Linked DNA regions of Homo sapiens. The protein of the gene in region 2 purifies or fractionates together with the protein of the main gene of each other region. This does not show direct contact. Each region holds a gene or a part of one and is shown on either strand. Other genes may lie near its edges.

Evidence for each region.
Region 1: the proteins of GLT1D1 (region 2) and RUFY3 purify together in Homo sapiens (affinity purification with mass spectrometry; 2 studies listed by BioGRID and IntAct, with this or other methods). This does not show direct contact.

What each region holds. Positions count from the first base shown.
Region 1 is NC_000004.12:70,787,717-70,791,541, forward strand, and holds part of RUFY3 (protein RUFY3), read left to right. Parts: intron 1-1,089; coding exon 1,090-1,257; intron 1,258-1,778; coding exon 1,779-1,876; coding exon of another isoform or gene 1,877-1,880; exon of another isoform or gene 1,881-2,181; intron 2,182-3,508; coding exon of another isoform or gene 3,509-3,581; exon of another isoform or gene 3,582-3,825. UniProt on the Homo sapiens protein: ARL8 effector that promotes the coupling of endolysosomes to dynein-dynactin for retrograde transport along microtubules. Acts by binding both GTP-bound ARL8 and dynein-dynactin.
Region 2 is NC_000012.12:128,940,463-128,944,287, forward strand, and holds part of GLT1D1 (glycosyltransferase 1 domain-containing protein 1 isoform 2 precursor), read left to right. Parts: intron 1-3,825.

The DNA.
Region 1 (3,825 bases), on a different chromosome or scaffold from region 2:
GTATGATTCGTTTTCTATAATGCTAATCAAGTAAAATGAGAATCTCAGTGAAGTGGCACATAATAAAAATCTTAAAATTTTTCATATCCTTTTATCACAGTAAGACAAATGTTTGTTAAGAAGGAAAGAAACTAAGAAAGTATTTGAGGTCCTAGGTGAGCCCAAGGCACAAGGCAGATGCAGAAGATCCTCAGGTCTTTGTATCTTCGATCACCCACATAATGTTGCAGTAATAATGGTTGAAACAAAAAGAGGTTTCATGTTAAGTGAACTAAAAATTCTGTTAGCGGCCGAGTGTGGTGGCTCACACCTGTAATCCCAGCACTTTGGGAGGCTGAGGCGGGCAGATCACGAGGTCAGGAATTCACACCAGCCTGGTCAACATGGTGAAACCCCGTCTCTACTAAACATACAAAAAATTAGCCAGGCATGGTGGCATGCACCCGTAGTCCCAGCTACTCAGGAGGCTGAGGCAGGAGAATCGCTTGAACCCGGGAGGTGGAGGTTGCAGTGAGCCAAGACTGAGCCCCTGCACTCCAGCCTGAGCGACAGAGCGAGACTCTGTCTCAAAAAAAAAAAAAAAATCTGTTCGCCTCGTAACCATACTAGTCATCATCCTCAGTAATTGCGATGTTACCCCAGGGACCCAGATGGTCCTCTGGGTTCCCTGGGCTCTTGAATATATCAACAACATTCACATTTAGGAGGACTGCAACTGCTTCATTTTGTGCTGACTGCTGTAACCCTGTAGGTATATTTCTATAATAAGATATGACCATCAGTTGTCGTAATATCTACTGAAGTGTCTCAAATATGTATATATTTTAGATGTATTAAATAACACTATCTTTGGCTTAGCAGGTTTTTCAGATTTGTACATTATTGGGCAAATGTTATTGTATATCCTAATTATTATTGTTAATTATTAATTAATTATTGTTAATGTCTCTGAAAATGAATGGTAGCTTAAGCTATTTTGCCAGAATATTCAGACCTGAGAGTTTTGGTGTACTTTTTCCTGTGAAATATTATGGTTTGTACTTAGTTGAAGGAACAGAGTGTAAGCAATTTACTTACCTTTGGGGGCAGGATGTTGAGAAAGAACTGGAGATGCAGATCAGCATGAGGCAGGAGATGGAATTGGCTATGAAGATGCTGGAGAAGGATGTCTGTGAGAAGCAGGATGCCCTGGTATCTCTTCGGCAGCAGCTGGATGACCTCAGAGCTCTCAAGCATGAACTTGCCTTTAAGCTGCAGGTAGGGGAAATATGAGGAATAGACTCACTGGCTCTCTAAAATCCTGGGGCTTCCCTCCTCCCATCTGATCCTCCAGAATCACACTTTAATTACAAGAGGAAAGAATCACATCTCATTTTGATGCTAGCTGCCAGTAAACTACTTTCAGAATCAGACAACCATGGGATCCTGTATTGCTGTTCTAGAAAACCATGGCCACTTTTCACATTATAGTAGAGGATGAGGGTCTTTTTTATCCTATAGGGTAATTTCTACTCTGCAGTCTACCGTGCCAGCTAAGTTATATATTCTATTAGCTTTTACACTGGAATGTGATACATTGATGAACTATTACTGTGATCACACTGCATATAACAATACTAACTTTAGATAAATTGCTTTTTTTTCCATTTCAGGATTAACTGATATTGAAATATATGAACATTTCTGTTTTCCCACTTACCATTAGATTCAAAAGGCATGTGTGGTTGTATTTTAGGATTTATGTTATACAGGTTGTTTATCGTTATTTTCCATAACAGAGTTCAGACTTAGGAGTAAAACAGAAAAGTGAACTAAACAGTCGCTTGGAAGAGAAGACTAATCAGATGGCTGCTACCATTAAACAACTTGAACAAAGGTAAAAGTCCTGTTTCTTTAATGAAACACTTTGGATTGTCAGTGCTGAAGTGAAAAGAATGTGCTGTACATTCGGCAAATAGAAAATACATGAAATTCTTCCAAATTAGCATCAGACATTCTGGTAGAAAAAAGCCAGTTGAATGTTATGTGTGTTTTCTAAGGTATGACTGAAATGTTTTTAGGAAATGTCAATCACTTGACTAGCCTTTAAAAAAAAAAAAGAAAGGTCAGCCTTTTATGACTGTTTTGAACATCAGAACTCTTAATCCATGTCAGAGTCATGTGTTAGAGGAAGGATACTTAAAAGCATGGAAGGACTCTTAAATGTATGTATGTAATTCTGTGATTTTATTGTTCATCACTGAAGTCTTTGAATACTTGGATGCTAGGGGATATAGAGGCACTGAGAGATAGGTGTCCTCCAAGGATCTATTCTGGATCTTTCTCTCCCTTCTTTAACCCTTTTCTCTTATCTCCCTTTTCTTTCTCCTGGGTAGTTCTGTAGCTTCCACTGTCACCTCCAGTGTGTTTTCCCAGCTCTTACCTTCATCTGGAGACCAGTCTTGAGTTTTCATCCTTTGGGCAGCTATCTTCCACCAGTATCTACAATTCAGTCTGCCCAAAGCACATCTTCTTCCTATGCTACTCTCTTTCTGTGCTTATGTGAAACCACCATTTTCTCTCTGGCAACTTAGCAGCCAAGAGAAATGGCTGAGTCTTCAAGGATGAATGTGACGTGGTACCCAAGGTCATTTGATGTTTCTACCCTTAACACCTGTTTGTCACCCTTCTTGCACTTGAGCAAAACTAAACTGCTGGTCCCTGTACTTCCCATTTTTCCCATTTATTTCTTTCCCAATAGTTCCACCAATTAGAAATGTCCTAATTCTTCCCACTCCCTTATTCGTCAGATACATTTTTAAGTTTAGGCTCAAATGCCACCTCCCCAGAGTTTCCTCTGATACCTCTTTGCAGCTAGAAATGATCTGTCTTTCTGGGAACTCCCATAGCTTCATACTCATATCTATCTATACTGCTTATGGCACTTCTCACTGTCTACTGTACCTTTTAACTCTTTATATATGTCTCCTCCGATGCGAGTGTAAGCTCCCTGAGATTAGTTAACGAATCTTTTAAGTTCCCGTATTAGATCTGTCGCAGTGCCTTGAATATACAAGCATTCATTCAGTAGATATATGAATGAATGGATTAATGGGTGATTTCTTATATTCAGATGATTCTTAACCAGTAAGGGTCCTGAACAGCAGTGCATATTAATGTTAACTCAAAACTTAATGGCAAATTTATAAATAAACCTGAAACCTCTTACATAGCCAAATACAAATGTATCAGTCTACCTAGGAAAGATGGTTAGGTACTTGCTCATAAACAGTTATATGTTTATGATTTAACAAAATGATTTTACTGTTCATAAATTGTGCTTTTGAAATGAAATGTATCAAATTTCTTTTCAATGATGTTTTGACTTGGAATTTAAAGCAAACAGAAAGAGAATAATGACTTATCTCTTTGAGTATTAAGCTGACTTATTCTCTTGCTATTTTTGTGTTTCCTGTTTATCCATTTTCTCATTCTCCTTTCACTTCATTGTCATTTTTATTTTATTTAGTGAAAAGGATTTGGTGAAACAGGCAAAGACCTTAAATAGTGCAGCAAATAAACTGATCCCAAAACATCATTAGGCATTTTTAAGTTGGTCACGTCGCAAGTCCGATATCACAACTTAATTGTAAAAGGAAGAAATCTGAAAGTTACTACATTTAAGCTCTGATTCTATATAAAATGTCACCAAAAAGTTGACTTTGAATTTGTTGGACTTTTAAAAAACCAGTTGGAAATATAGGTTGGGTTTTTTTCTTATTGTTTTCTCCCCAGGGTTAGAAAAATTGGTATAAGTTCCTAATTAAAAGCTGAATAAACTTTGAG
Region 2 (3,825 bases):
AGGCTAGTTTGGTGCCTGGGTGGCCTGACCCTGGCCCTCTGTATCCGGAGTCCCCTCAGTCTGGTGCTGCCTCTTTCTGGCCTCCACACATCCACTACGAGTTTGCTTAAAAACTTCTGGCCTGTCTTTGAGGAGCGATAAGTTTGAACATGTTGCTATTAATTTTTGCATGAATTCAACAAGTGTGTTATTAGCCTTCAGGAATGCAACAGGACGGAAATAGTCCCTGCCCCAAAGCACCTGTTCCTTCCAGATGCAAAGCAGGAGTCAAGTCGGGACTGGAGGATGTTAGGTTGTGACTAATGAAAAGGCTGCCCCTGGCCTTTAAAAAGTTGAGGTGGAATTCACATGCCACGAAATTCACCATTTTAGAGGGTACAAGCCAGTGGGTTTTAGTCTATTCACAAAGTTGTGCAACCATCACACCTATCTCATTCCTGAATATTTTTTCTCTCCCCAAGAGGATACCCTCTATCCACTAAGCAGTCACTTCCCATTTCCGCCTCACCCCAATAACCCCTAATTAGATCCTGAGTGACCCCTGGGTAACCACCAATCTACTTTCTGTCTCTGTGATTTGCCTGCTTTGGCCATTTCATAGACATGGAATCATACACTCTGTGGTCTTTCCTGTCTGGTGTAACTCACGTGGCATCGTGTTTTCCAAGCTCACCCTTGTTGCTGCCTAAGTTGGCACTTCCTTGTCACGGCTGAGTGGCACTCCTTTGTATGGATTGGCACATCACGTCTACTCATTCATCAGCTGATGATCAGGTCCTGGCCTTTCAAACTGTTTCTGCGAAGTCATCCTGTTAAAAAATATTTTGATATGGTCAGACCTTTGGTCATAGACTTACTAAGGATTCCAACCTATTCTGCCTGAATGATTTTATGACAAAATCCTTCTGCATCATTTAAGCAACACTTCCACTGCAATATTGGGTGGTTGTCAAATTGTCCCATTTCTGGAAACGACTCTGTCTCAAGACCTTAAGTTGGCTGAAGGGTTCTCACTCACCACACTCAGGTGTAGCCATACAGGCTCCTAACCAGAGTCTATATGTATTCTTTGGAACATTCTGTCTCTTCTTTCTCTCTCTCTTTCTCTTTTTTTTTTTTTTTTTTTTTGAGACAGAGTCTCACTCTGTTACCTAGGCTGGAGTGCAATGCGGTCATCTCGGCTCACTGCAACCTCCGCACCCCGGGTTCAAGCGATTCTTCCGCTTCAGCTTCCCAAGTAGCTGGGATTACAGGTGCTCACTCTACCCCCACGCCCAGTCAATTTTTGTGTTTTTAGTAGAGACAGGCTTTCACCATGTTGGCCAGCAGGCGGGTCTCGAACTCTTGATCACATGATCCCCCCTCCTCAGCCTCCTAAAATGCTGGGATTCCAGGCATGAGCCACCAGCATGAGCCACCGTGCCTGGTCTCTCTCTCTCTCTCTTTTTTTTTTTTTTTTTTTTTTTTACTATTATTGTTTTTATTATTTAATAGCTGGGCTCATAGTACCATTTCCTACTTATTTTTTTCCCTCTCTGAATTGTTGAGTCTGGCTCTGCTGCCATTTGATGTAATTCCTGGAGACTTAGCTTCATTTCAGGCTTTTGCTAACATGTGTCTTCTTTTTTTTTTTTCCACTGTTTTAAGGTCATTTATTAGAACACAGTCATTCAGAAGCCACTGAGACATCAGGCAGCAGGAAGGAAGGTGGGGTGGAGCAGGCCCTGTGAAGGACCAAGGACAAAGTAATAGCCTCAGTTATGAAATTTCATTTTATTCTGATAAAGACTAATGTATGCCTGATAACCTAGTGATAATCCACAAGTTTGGTAGTTCACAACATTTTTAGAAAGCACGTACGATTAACATTTAAATAAGGCATTATAGAAAGTTTTATAAAGAATGAAGTGTGTACTATAATTCTTTTAAGAAACTTTGGTTCATCTTGAAAGATCAATGAATTTTTAAAATATCAGAAGAAAAGGAAAATAAATTTTTTTCCCCAAAAATACATAAGAACTGCTTACTGGCACTTGTATTTTAAGTACCTGGGGAAAAAATGGAAAAGATTTTTAAAGGCAATTAATAACAGCTTGTACGAGGGCTTGTTTCATTTGTTCTGGCACCAAGTAAAGAGTAAATACGCCATGGAAGACGCCATCAGGTTTTCCGTCCACCTCTCCTACTGCCCCACTTCTCCCAGACCACACAGCACATCAGCAGCCATCCTTGCTGCCCCACTCAGGAATCACTTTAGATTCCAATTTTCTTTGTTTGTTTGTTTTTGTTTTTTGTTTTTTTTTTTTGAGACAGAGTCTCGCTCTGCCCCCCAGGCTGGAGTGCGGTGGCACGATCTAGGCTCACTGCAACATCCACCTTCCGGGTTCAAGTGATTCCCCTGCCTCAGCCTCCTGATTAGCTGGGGCTACAGGCGCGCCATCCAGCCCGAGTAATTTTTTGTATTTTAGTAGAGACGGGGTTTCACCATGTTGGCCAGGATAGTCTCGATCTCCTGACCTCATGATCCACCCGCCTCGGCCTCCCAGAGTGCTGGGATTATAGGCGTGAGCCACCACGCCCGGCCTAGATTCCAGTTTTTAAATGGCTTCTCAGATGACACCAACAGAGTTCTTTCCCTTTAAAATAAGGTGGCAGTGAATGCTAACAGGTATCGATTTCTTGGATCAGGAACAAAGAACTCCTTCAGGAAACTCACTTACTGGTCCTGGTTAACCTATTGTGTAAAGTCTTTTTATTGGCACACCTGTTTACTAATTATGATTGATTGCTATTTATGCCAAGGGAGCGTTTCCCAGGCATATCTCATCTATTTACTAACGACAAAGTGTGCTTACTTTATTTACATAGTGCCACAGGTTTTCTCTTTTCTCTCTTTTTTTTTTTTGGCAGGGAGTGGCACTATAACTTGTTATTTATCAGGGCGGATCATACATTTGGATCAAAAAGAGGAACCGGCAAGTAGATCCTAAAACACATTTCTCAACCTGAGTCACATCTGAAAACATATAGATTTTAATTACATTTTGTTGAAAATTCATTCAACTTCGGTGCTTGTCCAAGAACTTATAATGTTAATTTCTGACATAAATCATAACCCTCAGTACATATGTATTTTCAAAGGAAACAAGTCATCTTAAAGTAATATTTTTCTATATGCGAATGGATACATTGTTGTAGCAAATTGAAAATTCTGAGTAAACTGAAAGTATGCTTAACAACAAAATAAATACAGCATATATGGTTAGCATACACATTTCTTAGTAGCAGAGGATTTGTGTCTTACAACAAATCTGTAAACCCACTTGCTTTCTTTCTGGTATTTTATATAGTGTCTCCCCATGTTCCACAACGCTGGAGATGTCTTTTGTGGCATCGATCTGTGCAAACATTTCTGATCACATATTTTCCCCCAATGACATGTAACTTTTTTTTAACTTTTCCGGGAAAATACGGAAGCTTTATCAACCACTTATTAACTGAACAAAAACTTAGATTACTACCAAATGCTCTTTTAATTTTGCTCCAACAGATGTTTTAAAAGTTCAGACATCACTGATGTTTTTGAGGATAGCTGCGTAAAACACACTAGATGATTTCAAAGGATGAATCTTAGTATCTGACTCATTTGGCACATCCTTAGTATCTAGAATCAAATCAGTAGAAATAAAAGTCATATAATTTTCAAAGAATTCATACATACTGGAATTCTTAGGAAAAGCAGCTTCTAAATGCAAGGACTATGAGGTTTGCCCATCTTACTACTAATAGTTCCACACATTTCTCCTTATAGAGTAACTGAAGCTT